Regions from separate parts of the Homo sapiens genome. Here region 1 is linked to region 2. The links come from fine-mapping of genetic effects on gene expression. A gene starts in region 2. The other region holds a variant in brackets. All regions are shown on one strand. Distances are from middle to middle.

Region 1 (5,373 bases), 77 kb after region 2:
GAGGGAGTGGTATGAACATGGAGGGCCACTGGGGTTGAGGAATGGCCTGAGAGTGGGCATGGCCAGTTGGCTTAGGTTCTGAGCAGTTGCTCATTCAACAGGCACACTGAGTGTGGGCTACTGTGTCTGGTCCTAGGGTTAGGATGAGTGGCAAAAATGACATAGTTCCTGTCCTTGGGGAGCTGATAGTCTAGTGGGAGAAACACATATTGAAATAATTGCAAAAGAATATATGTACAGTCCATGGCAAGTGCTAGGAAGACAAATGACACAGTGCTCTGAACATATATAATGTGAGGGGGAACCTCCTTGCTTGTGTGGGAGGTGACCTGGAGCCCATATCTGAAGGCTGCATTAGGAGTTAGTGAGGCACGCAGGAGGGAAGGCACATTTCAGGTGGAAGGGGAGCCTGTGCCTTCGTGGGAAGAAATATGGTACATTAGGAAGGCAGGAATACAGGTCTTCCTGGAGCCCAACATGGTGGGAGAATAATGGGAGGAAAGTGTTCTATTCCTTCTCTTAGGGGAGACAGGTGGACAGGTGTCTGTGGTCAGGGGATGGGATGTGGCTCTCCAATATGCTAGAGCCCTGGACAGTTAGGGGTATAAGGTTGATAAACATGAGGTAGGCCTCAGGCAGACCTGACTTGAATTCAGCAGGTGTGTCCCTCGGCCAGCTACTGGACTTGCCTGAGCCACAGCATCCCTGTCTGTGGAATGGGGTCAAGGCTGCCTCATAAGGCTGTGGTGGAGAGATCTGTGGAGCCCCGTACACTTTTCATCAATGGCTGATGGATTGGCCTGTTAATACTGTAAGAGTGTGATGAGGACGCTCAGGGTCACTGGAACGCCTCATAATCTTTTAAAAATCTCAGGCTGGGGGAGAGCAAGGAACCCATGGAGATCTTCTGTTCCAGAAAGGTCCAGGCCAGGAAGGGCTTAGGAAGAGAAGCAGATGGAGAAAAAAATCTAAGGAAACAGACCCAGGAGTTGACATAAACTGTTTGGAGAGGTTGTTCCAGCAGACTCTTGCACCGGCAGCCCCTTTTCATGAGATAAGAAAGCCTAGGAGGGTTGGGGGCAGGAGGGCACCCATGAAAGACAGGGTGTCTGGATGTTCTACTGGGGATTAGAAAAACAAAACATAAAATTTCCATATACTCTGCTAAAAAGTCCATTTTAGAAGACTACATGGTTACAGGGAGAAATACGCATGTTATATTAAGTAAAAAAACACTGTGGATACTATGATTTTGTAAAGTAAGTATAAATATATATGTATGTGTGTAGAAAATGCCTTGAAAAATATTCATACTCAAAATGTAGCTGTGTCCTAGCGGGGCATGGTGGTGTGTGCCTGTGGTCCCAGCTACTTGGGAGGCTGTGGCATGAGAATTGCTTGAACCTAGGAGGAGAAGGTTGCAGACTGTCTCAAAAAAAGATGTAGCTGTGTCCAAGTCATGTTACTAATGATTGTGCATATATATGGTTCTTGTGACAAGTACACATTAGCTTAGTGACGAAGCTGTCACATGATTTTTGAGGTCAAAAGTTTCCAGGCCAGGTGCGGTGGTTCATGCCTATAATCCCAGCACTTTGGGAGGCCGAGGCAGGTGGATCACTTGAGGTCAGAAGTTTGAAACCAGCCTGGCCAACATGACGAAACCCAATCGCTATTAAAAATACAAAAATTAGCCAGGTGTGGTGGGGTGTGCCTGTGGTCTGAGTTACTTCGGAGGCTGAGGCGGGAGAATCGCTTGAAACCAGGAAGCAGAGGTTGCAGTGACCCGAGATATTGCATCACTGCACTCCAGCCTGGGTGACAGATCGAGACTCCCTCTCAAAAAAAAAAAAAAAAAAAAAGAGATAGTTGCTAGAGAGCTGGGGTTCCAGGGGTGTGTGGGCAAGGGTGGGGAAAATGTTGGGGGTGGTGAAGGCCCTCCCCCACTCACACCCACCCCACTGCCTCCCCAGGAATGTAACAACCCCTGCTGCAATGCCTCTAATTGTACCCTGAGGCCGGGGGCGGAGTGTGCTCACGGCTCCTGCTGCCACCAGTGTAAGGTAAGTGGCCCTTTTCTCCACGCCTTGGGCCCTGGCCTGACAGTGGGACCACAGGACTGCTCTGCTGGGGTGGATGGCTGGGGATTTGCCTCCATCCTGGGGCTGTGATGGCAACAGAGTTTCAGAAACACAGAGCGG[A/G]AAAGGTGCCTTGAATAAAATTTACTATTCCTATACTGGGCCTCACTGAATTCAGATCATCCCAGAGGAGGGTGGCGCTTCTTTGGAAATGGTACTTTTTTTTTTCTTTTTTAAAGAAGTATCCAGAGAGAGTGGGCTTGATTTTATTGAGCTCATAAACAATAATAATTATCATCATTTGTATTGACATTAATGGACCTCTTAGTAGATGCCAGGCACTGTGCTGGGAATTTTATGTACGTTATCTCATTCTCTCCTCACAAAAACCCCATAAAATATATGTGACTATCCTTATTTTAAGATGTGGAAACTAGAGCTTATAGGGGATAAGAGGTTTATCTGGAATCAGGCAGTCAGGAAGGGACTGAATCCAGCTTTCCCTGACTCTGGTGCCCACATTCCTAATATTGATGTGAGAGATAAATTGTCTGTTGCTGCTAGTGTTACCGTAGAACCACAATCTCTCTTCCACAATTCTGAAATTAAGGGAGTTCTAAAAGCTGAAAAAAAATGTAAACACATTTGGTGGCAAAACTTGACCTGAATTGACATGAGATGAATTATAGTCTTTTTAAAAAAAAATCACTCCTAAAGTGAATATTTATATTGCATTACAGAAATATTAATATGTTTGATCAGAAGGTGTTATCCCCAGCCTTGCTGGGGGGTTATGTAATATACATATGTAGTTATATATGCGGACATATGTAATTATCCATATCCATATATATATATATATATATATACATACACACATGTGTAATTATATATGTACACACATGTACATATGGACCTATGTATTACAATATCTGCTTTCTAAATCTGAAAAGCCTGAACCCCATCTGGCCCCATCATTTTAGGCAGGAACTGTGGGCCTGGGCTTCTGCCTAGCACTTGCTGAGTGCTCGTTAGGGGCCAGATACCATTCACATACTTAGTTCTAACTCACGTTTAATCACCCATTAGTGGGTTATTATCCTGAGTTGTGGGTGAGTGAGCACACACAGGTTACACAGCAGGTGCCCAAGGCCCCGCTGCCGGTTAAGGAGCTGGGATGTGTGCCCAGGCAGGCTGGCTGTGGGGCAGGTCCTCTTTGCCTCCACCTGCCTCTGGATGGCAGAGGTGTGTCCTGCAGCCTCCTCCTGCATACACCACCCATGCCCACACTTGCGACTGGGCATCCACTCTCAGCAAGCTGCTCAGCTGGCCCAGTCTTGGCCTGAGAGTGGCCGGTGGAGAAGCCTGTCTGCCTTCTCCTGGAAGGACCCTGTGGGTGGGAGGAGTGGCCCAGGAGCAGGGGAGGGGGTCTGTTCTCAGTCACTGGTTTCCTTGCCTGGCTCTCGGAATGTGCACGGCATCTGGTTTGGCTGTGCGTCCCCCTGGGAGGCTGTGCTGGGTCAAGTTCTTCCAGTCTTGGCCCAAGGCCTAAGCATAAGCATGGAGTGGACCCCTTCACTCCACACAAGAATTTCCGTTTGAGCCTCAGAAAGGATTCCCTGGTGTCCAAGACTGACTTCAAACCCTGGTTGTGTGATTTGGGGCAACCTATTAACTCTCTGAGCCTAGGTTCTTTATCTGTAAAATGGAAAGAGTATTAGTAACACCGACTACCCAGGGAGGCTGTAAGACTCTTCGCCCTTTGCCCCAGGTGTGCTGTTGATCAACTTATTGATCTGCAAAGTGGGACAAATAGCAGTATCTATCCCATGGAAGCTGTGAGGATCCCACGAGATACGTGTATGTCACACACTCAGCCCAGTGCCTGGCCCCATAGTGGGGATATATTATTGCTGAGGTGCTTTGTAAACTCACAGATGTTATGTGAATGCTAGTTTTGTGTGTGTGTGTGTGTGTGTGTGTGTGTATTAGTGGGCCTGGCTCCTCTGCCACTTACTATGAGTCTTTGGATGCATCGTCTAACCTCTTTAAGCCTACAGATTTTATCATCTGCAGAAGGGATAATTATATCACACAGGACTGTCATGAAAACTAAGTGAAGTCATATTTGTACTGGACACTTAAGTGGGAGCTGCATAAAAGTAGCTGCTATTACTAAAGCATGTAGGAAACTGTAAATTGTTGTATAGGTATTATTTCTTGCCTCTTTCTTAAGACTTCTATGAAGAGAAAGTGAGTTAGCATTTGTGAAAACAGCTTGAAATTCTGTCAGTATTCACATGAGAAGGCTGAAGGTGGTTTGGGCTAATGAGGTCATGTAAAAAGTGCTGTGAAATCATGGTAATGGAAAATTCTGTTCTATGAGAGTGATCCTTATGAGCCCTTGGGCAACAGGGTTGAGGGTGGGGAGGAGATTGACTGTGTTTTCCTCTCATTCCTTGGCTCAGCTGTTGGCTCCTGGGACCCTGTGCCGCGAGCAGGCCAGGCAGTGTGACCTCCCGGAGTTCTGTACGGGCAAGTCTCCCCACTGCCCTACCAACTTCTACCAGATGGATGGTACCCCCTGTGAGGGCGGCCAGGCCTACTGCTACAACGGCATGTGCCTCACCTACCAGGAGCAGTGCCAGCAGCTGTGGGGACCCGGTAAGGCTCTCCTGGGGAGCACGGCTCTCCCCAGCCCACCACTTCCCAGCCAGCCTCCCCTGGCCCTCAGGGTAGTTTGGAATCTTGGCTTCAAATGGCACCTCTAGATACTACCTCTTTCATCCCCTTGACTCAGGGTAGATGTTCAGGGAGAACCAGAGGACAGTGTTCCTTCCCAGTCCCTTGATGCTTTTATTTCTCAGAGTGGACAATTGAATAAGAGTAATCCAAAAGAAAAATGAGCAGAGGATGGAGACAGAGAAGCAAATGCAAATGGCCCTTAAGCTATGAAAAGACGTTTAATCTCAGTCATATTAAGGGAAAGCAAAGTATAATTATGATGAGGTGAGATTTTTCATATATCAGATTGCAAAGACTGAAAGTTAAGATAATAATAATATAACAACAATAATAATGATATAGTGTTGTGGAGGGTGTGAAGAAACAGGTAGATATAACCACTATGGAAAGCAATTTGGAGATATACTTAGAAATGCAGCTAACACTTGCACATGTATGTGAGGATATATTTACTATGATGTTTACTGCACCATTGTTAGCCATAGCAACAACAACCTATGTGTCCTTCAGTAGGGACCAATTAAATTAATTCTGGTACATTCATATAATG
Region 2 (5,373 bases):
ATACAGATGAAATTTAGATGACACTTCAGACTTGGAATTAATGCTGGAATGAGTGAAGACATTTGGGCTGCTGGGATGGGGTGGATATATTCTGCACGCGAGAAGTGTGAAAGGAAAATAAATCTTAGGACTCCCAAATCACTAAGCCAAGGAAAAAGTCAAGCTGGGAACAATGTCAGGCAAACCTGTCCCCCATTTTATTCTTTTCTTCTTTTTTTTTTTTTTTTTGAAATAGAGTCTCACTCTGTCGCCCAGGCTGGAGTGCAGTGGCGTGATCTTGGCTCACTGCAACCTCCCCTTCCGAGGTTTAAGCGATCTCCTGCCTCAGCCTCCTGAGTAGCTGGGATTACAGGTGTGCCACCACGCCTGGCTAATTTTTTTTGTATTTTTAGTAGAGACAGGGTTTCGCCACATTGGTCAGACTGGTCTCGAATTCCTGACCTCAGGTGATCTGCCCGCCTTGGCCTCCCAAAGTGCTGGGATTACAGGCCTAAGCCACAATGCCAGGCCACCATCCTATTCTTAAATAAGATAGCTACAAAGAGAAACAGCTACATACCTTCCTCACAATTTTCACACAAGGAAATTCCTTGTGGACAAAGGACAGACAGAATTTAAAGCCATCCCTCTGAGGCTCACCGGAAACAAATGCATATCTGATTGCTTCTTCTGCCCTATTGTTTATGTAAAAATGTAGATTCACTGAGCTAGACTAAATTGTGTATTCAGTGGAAGGTTGATCAAGGACTCAAAAGAATGTAACCTCTTCTGTTTCTTATCTACTTATAACCTGGAAGCACCACCCTTTCTGCAGCTTGGAGTTGTCTTGCCTTACCGGACCGGAAGCAATGTACATCCTACACATATTGATTGATGTCTCATGTCTCCCCAAAATATATAAAAGGAGGCTACACCCCCACCACCCTGGGCACATGTTGGGACCTCCTGAGGCTGTGTCATGAGCACGTTCTTAAGCTTGGCAAAATTAACCTTCTAAATTGACTGAGACCTATCTCAGATATTTCGGGTTCACAGAAAGATACGAATTTTACAGCAGCTGGAGACTAACGGAGTCCCAAACGACATTAATGGCCAGAACCACTTATTTGATTTCCCTCATGGGTGCCCATGAGTAGGGTTTGATAGACCTACCTACCCATCATCTTCAGGAGTGCCTCGCCCTCTCCAACACTTAGCACTTCTCTAGTCAACCTGGGTTTGACTAAAGAGGCTCAGAAAAAGGAACAGATGGACGAGGTTTGAGGCTGGGATTCTACAACGAGGCTTTGCTAAAACTTGCTGAGGGATCTTAGGCAAGTCATTTCTCTCTCATTATCAGTTTCTCCACCTGGAAAATAAGGTGTGTTGCATCAGGCTCTGGAGTTATACGGATGTGGGTTTGAATCTAGGCACTGACATTAGCTGTGTAATCTTGGGCAAGTGGTTTAGCCTCTCAGGTTTGATTTCCTCATTTCTAAAACAGGGATAGTACTAGTACCTACCCCATGGGATTACTGGGCTAATGAAAAGAGATAATGTATGCAGAGTCCCTGGCTCATAAAAGTTATTTTCTCCGATTAATTAAATAAGTGAATATGTGTAAAGTGCTGAAGACAGCGTTTGACACTTAGCGTTTTATCAGTCTTAGCTATCATGATTTTCTTATTCTAGTACATAGAAAGTCCTCAATAAGTAACAGTAGTTATTATTATTTTTGGTCACATGTCCCTGTGTTTCCCTCCAAAACCCTAACCATCCCCAATTCTGGTTTTCTCCCCGCATGCAGCCCAAGGGTTTTCACGTCCCAGTGCGATTGTCTGGGCTGTTTCCTCCGCCTGATGTTCCATTTCTCCTCCTCCCGATCTCAGATGGCTTCTCCTCTGGGATTCCTCTGGTCTTCATCACTCCCTCCTCCCAGGCAGAAGGAATGGCTCCTGGATTTGTGTCCTGCTTAAAAAAAAAAAAAAAAAAAAAAAAAAAAAAAAAAAAAGAAGTCCATATAGCACTTAGTTCTTTGTGCCTGGCGGTTGGGTTAACTCTTTCTGAGCCTGTCTCCGAGAGTGGCGGCCCCCGGGGGACGGCGCTGGGTGAATCACCTCTGAGTGTCACCCAAGGCGTCTGGCACAGTGCGGGACAGTAAACGGGCCGCTGTGCGGAGAGGGGTCCAGTTTAACTCCTAGAAGCCCGAGTCCCCGACCCTCTACAGGCCGCGTCCACCACAAATCCCTCCTCCTGGGGGGCTCGGATTCTCCCTTCCCCGCGGTCTCCCTCACCTGAGCCAGCCCCGCTCCCCCGAGTCTCGCCAGCTCCTCCCCGGCCCCTCCCTCCAGCCCCCTCCGGGCTGGAGCCTCCCCTCCTCCATCCCCTGGCGGAGGCCCGCGGGGCTGGAGGCGGAGCGTCTCGGCAGAGGGCTGGGAGCCGGGTGGGGAGGCGCGGGGCGAGCCGGGGGGTTCCAGACGCGCCTCCACCGCCGGGCAGTGGGCAGGTATGGCTGAGGGCGTGTGAGCGCCGAGCGCTAAGGGCCGCCGCCACCATGCCAGGGGGCGCAGGCGCCGCCCGGCTCTGCTTGCTGGCGTTTGCCCTGCAGCCCCTCCGGCCGCGGGCGGCGCGGGAGCCTGGATGGACAAGTAAGTGGCCAGGCGCGGGGGGATGGAGGCTGGGTGGCCCGGAGACCTGGGAGTAGCCTTGCGGGTCCGGAGCGCTGGGACCGCGACCCCTGCGCCTCCCGCAACTCCGCGGGGCCTGCGCCCCCGCCGTCCCCAGCCTGGGAGCCCGGGCTTTGTTCCCACGTTCTGCGCCCTGGGAGGTGGCAGAGGTCGGGGAAACCCGGCGCAGCCAGAAAACAGCCGGTCCGCTCACTGGCTAGCCTTCCCTTCTCGCCTTCTCCTTCCTCTGTTTTTCTGCTTTTGGCTTCTCTTTCCGCCGTTCTCGGGGCTTATCCTCCTCCGTTTTCTCACGGTCCCTCGTGTCCGCTCCGCCTCTCTCTCTGTCTTTCTCTCTACCGCCCGCTGCACTCGCCAACGCCGAGCATCCCGAGCGCCCTGCCCGTGTGGCCTGGGAGCGGCTTCCTGGGACCAGGCTCGGTGCCTGCCACACTGGTGGGGTAGGACATAAAATGCCCGCGGCAGACTGTGGTAGCCTTGGCTAGGGGATGGCTCGCTGGGTATCTGCAGCCACACACTTCGGATCCCCGAGCTGGCAGGAGCCCTACTGAAGGCCAAGTCAAACGCACCCATTTCACAGATGGGGAAACCGAGGCCCACAAAAGGGAAAGGACTTGCCCAAGGCCACGCCACGGGTTGAGGTCCGCGGTGGCACTGGAAACCAGGGCTCTCTTTCCACGCCAACCCGACGGCCGCCTTCTTTGGTCCTCAGTTTCCCCTTCTGTGAAGCGAAGGGGTCTGACTCGATGTTTCCAGCTAAGATGCCGGGTGATGTCCGTGTTTCTCAGGACTAGTTTCCCAGACACCAATCCCCTCCCCGGCTCCATCCCTCGGGGGCTATAAGCAGATTTCGCGGAAGGCTTGGTCCCGGGGGGCGGTGCCCGGGTTCTCTCATTATGACCGGAGAAGGCTTAGCCCTGGCTCCACCGCTGCAGACGGGCTGGGCTGACTCCAGACTGCTGCTTGGGGGACCAACAGTCAGCGTTTTCAAATAGAGCGAGCACCGGCGGAGCGAGGGTGGGCTGGCTGGACCCCCGGGCCGCCTCAAACCCAGAGGCTGAGAGCTCTTCCGACAGTTCGGAACTTCCAGGGGCCGAGGTCGGGCGGTCCTCCCAAAGGGCTCAAAGGAACCGCCCTTTGAGCTGTTGTTCCGAAGGGGAAACTGAGGCACAGAGGAGGTTCTAGGGTAGCACCAGGCCTGTGTCAGTGCTTAGTGCAGGAGAAAAGCATGAAGAAAGACAAGGAAAGCTAGTTACTGCTCCTAGCACAGGCGCCTTCTCTGAGTTTTGAGTCCTTGGAGAACACTTGCTGTAGAATATCTGGGAAATAACGAAAAGTGTAAAAGAAAATGATCTGCAACCCCCAAATCCACAGTTGCTGTTGATATTTTGTTTTTTTTCCCCTCCACATTCTTTGTGTGTTCCTATGGATATATATTGATAAAATTGGAACCATACCCATAAGTACAGTTTCGTGTCTTGCGTTTTTCACTTCACACCATGAGCGTTTTCCACATCATCAAATTCTCTGTAAAACATGATTTTAATGACTCTATACAAAGTTTTCAAAAGTTAAAAACACGACTCATACAAATGTGGCCAAGATTTATTCAACTCATTAATGAGGTAGCAAACAGGAGAGTAAAGCTGATTCAGGGAGCATTAGAAAGGGGTGATACAAGCATTGGAGAAAGAATGTTGAAATCATGTGGCCCAGGGCAGATGCAGAAATGGTGGATGCCCCATGAAGCAAACCATAATTCTTGGTTATCTTTCTTTTTTAATTTCCTTCCTTCATTCCTTCTTTTCTTTCTTTTTTTTTTTTTCAGAGTCTCTATCTGTTGCCCAGGCTGGCATGCAGTGGCACGATCTGGGCTCACTGCAGTCTCTGCTTCCTGGGTTCAAGCTATTCTCCTGCCTCAGCCTCCTGAGTAGCTGGGCTTATTGGCATGTGCCACCACACCCGGCTAGTTTTTGTATTTTTAGTAGAGACGGGGTTTCACCATGTTGGCCAGGCTAGTCTCAAATTCCTGACCTCAGGTGATCCGCCCGCCTCGGCCTCCTAAAGTGCTAGGATTACAGGCGTGAGCCATTGTGCCTGGCCAGGTTATCTTTTTACTATGCTGAAATCACTTACATCTCTGTCAGACAGAATTCTATAGATATATATAGATTATATAACTTCACAGAGTGTAGCTTTTAATCAATGGTAAATAAAAAGTCAATGGTACATTCCCCTAGATAATGCAGTAATCCATGGGTGAGTCTGTTAAACAATGCTCTGATACAACATTGAGAAGACATCTTGCTTGCTCTTGCCTTATTTCCAAGTTTTGGAGACCTTTTCTTAACATGTACTATGTTCCTCTTTTGGTGAGATTTTAGATTGCTTTCACTATTTTTTTACAATCGTAGATATCATTTAATTCCATTAAATGCTCCATTAAATATTATAGAATTCCTTTTTGTTTAAAATAATATAGACTTATCAGAGCCACCAGGGCAAGAGCGATGCTTGTCTTTTTTTTATTTCTGAGATGGAGTCTTGCTCTGTCACTCAGGCTGGAGTGCACTGGCGCAATCTTGGCCTCCCAGATTCAAGGGATTCTCGTGCCTCAGCCTCCTGAGTAGCTGGGATTACAGGCATGCGCCACCACACCCAGCTAATTTTCATATTTTTAGTAGAGACAGGGTTTCACCTTGTTGGCCAG

Direction of the effects. Alleles are on the strand shown, and positions count from the first base shown. SD is a standard deviation of normalised expression in the study named.
For the expression in thyroid of the gene that starts at base 2,455 in region 2, allele G in region 1 goes with a higher level than allele A (small effect, 0.22 SD a copy in GTEx).

What was found. PIP is the estimated chance that this variant, and not a neighbour inherited with it, causes the effect. A credible set is the group of variants that fine-mapping cannot tell apart.
Region 1: its variant is the best candidate, but not a certain one, in a credible set for the expression of ADAM19 in thyroid (GTEx, PIP 0.73).

Annotation. Positions count from the first base shown.
Region 1 is chr5:157,496,263-157,501,635 of GRCh38, reverse strand. It overlaps ADAM19 (ADAM metallopeptidase domain 19), which reads left to right. Exons shown (of 23, transcript NM_033274.5): 13 at 1,974-2,063; 14 at 4,547-4,742. Among named protein-coding and RNA genes, the nearest start is that of NIPAL4, 39 kb to the right of the region's middle. RefSeq lists enhancers at 1,466-1,525, 1,586-1,635, 4,640-5,141. The variant A/G (reference allele first, on the strand shown) is at 2,202.
Region 2 is chr5:157,572,857-157,578,229 of GRCh38, reverse strand. ADAM19 (ADAM metallopeptidase domain 19) reads left to right here and starts at 2,455. Exons shown (of 23, transcript NM_033274.5): 1 at 2,455-2,627. The coding sequence starts at 2,534. LOC124901121 (a long non-coding RNA gene) reads right to left here and starts at 3,251. Exons shown (of 2, transcript XR_007059018.1): 1 at 2,860-3,251; 2 at 1,620-1,950. RefSeq lists enhancers at 1-440, 441-1,056, 2,914-2,993, 3,230-3,759 and a silencer at 2,304-2,743.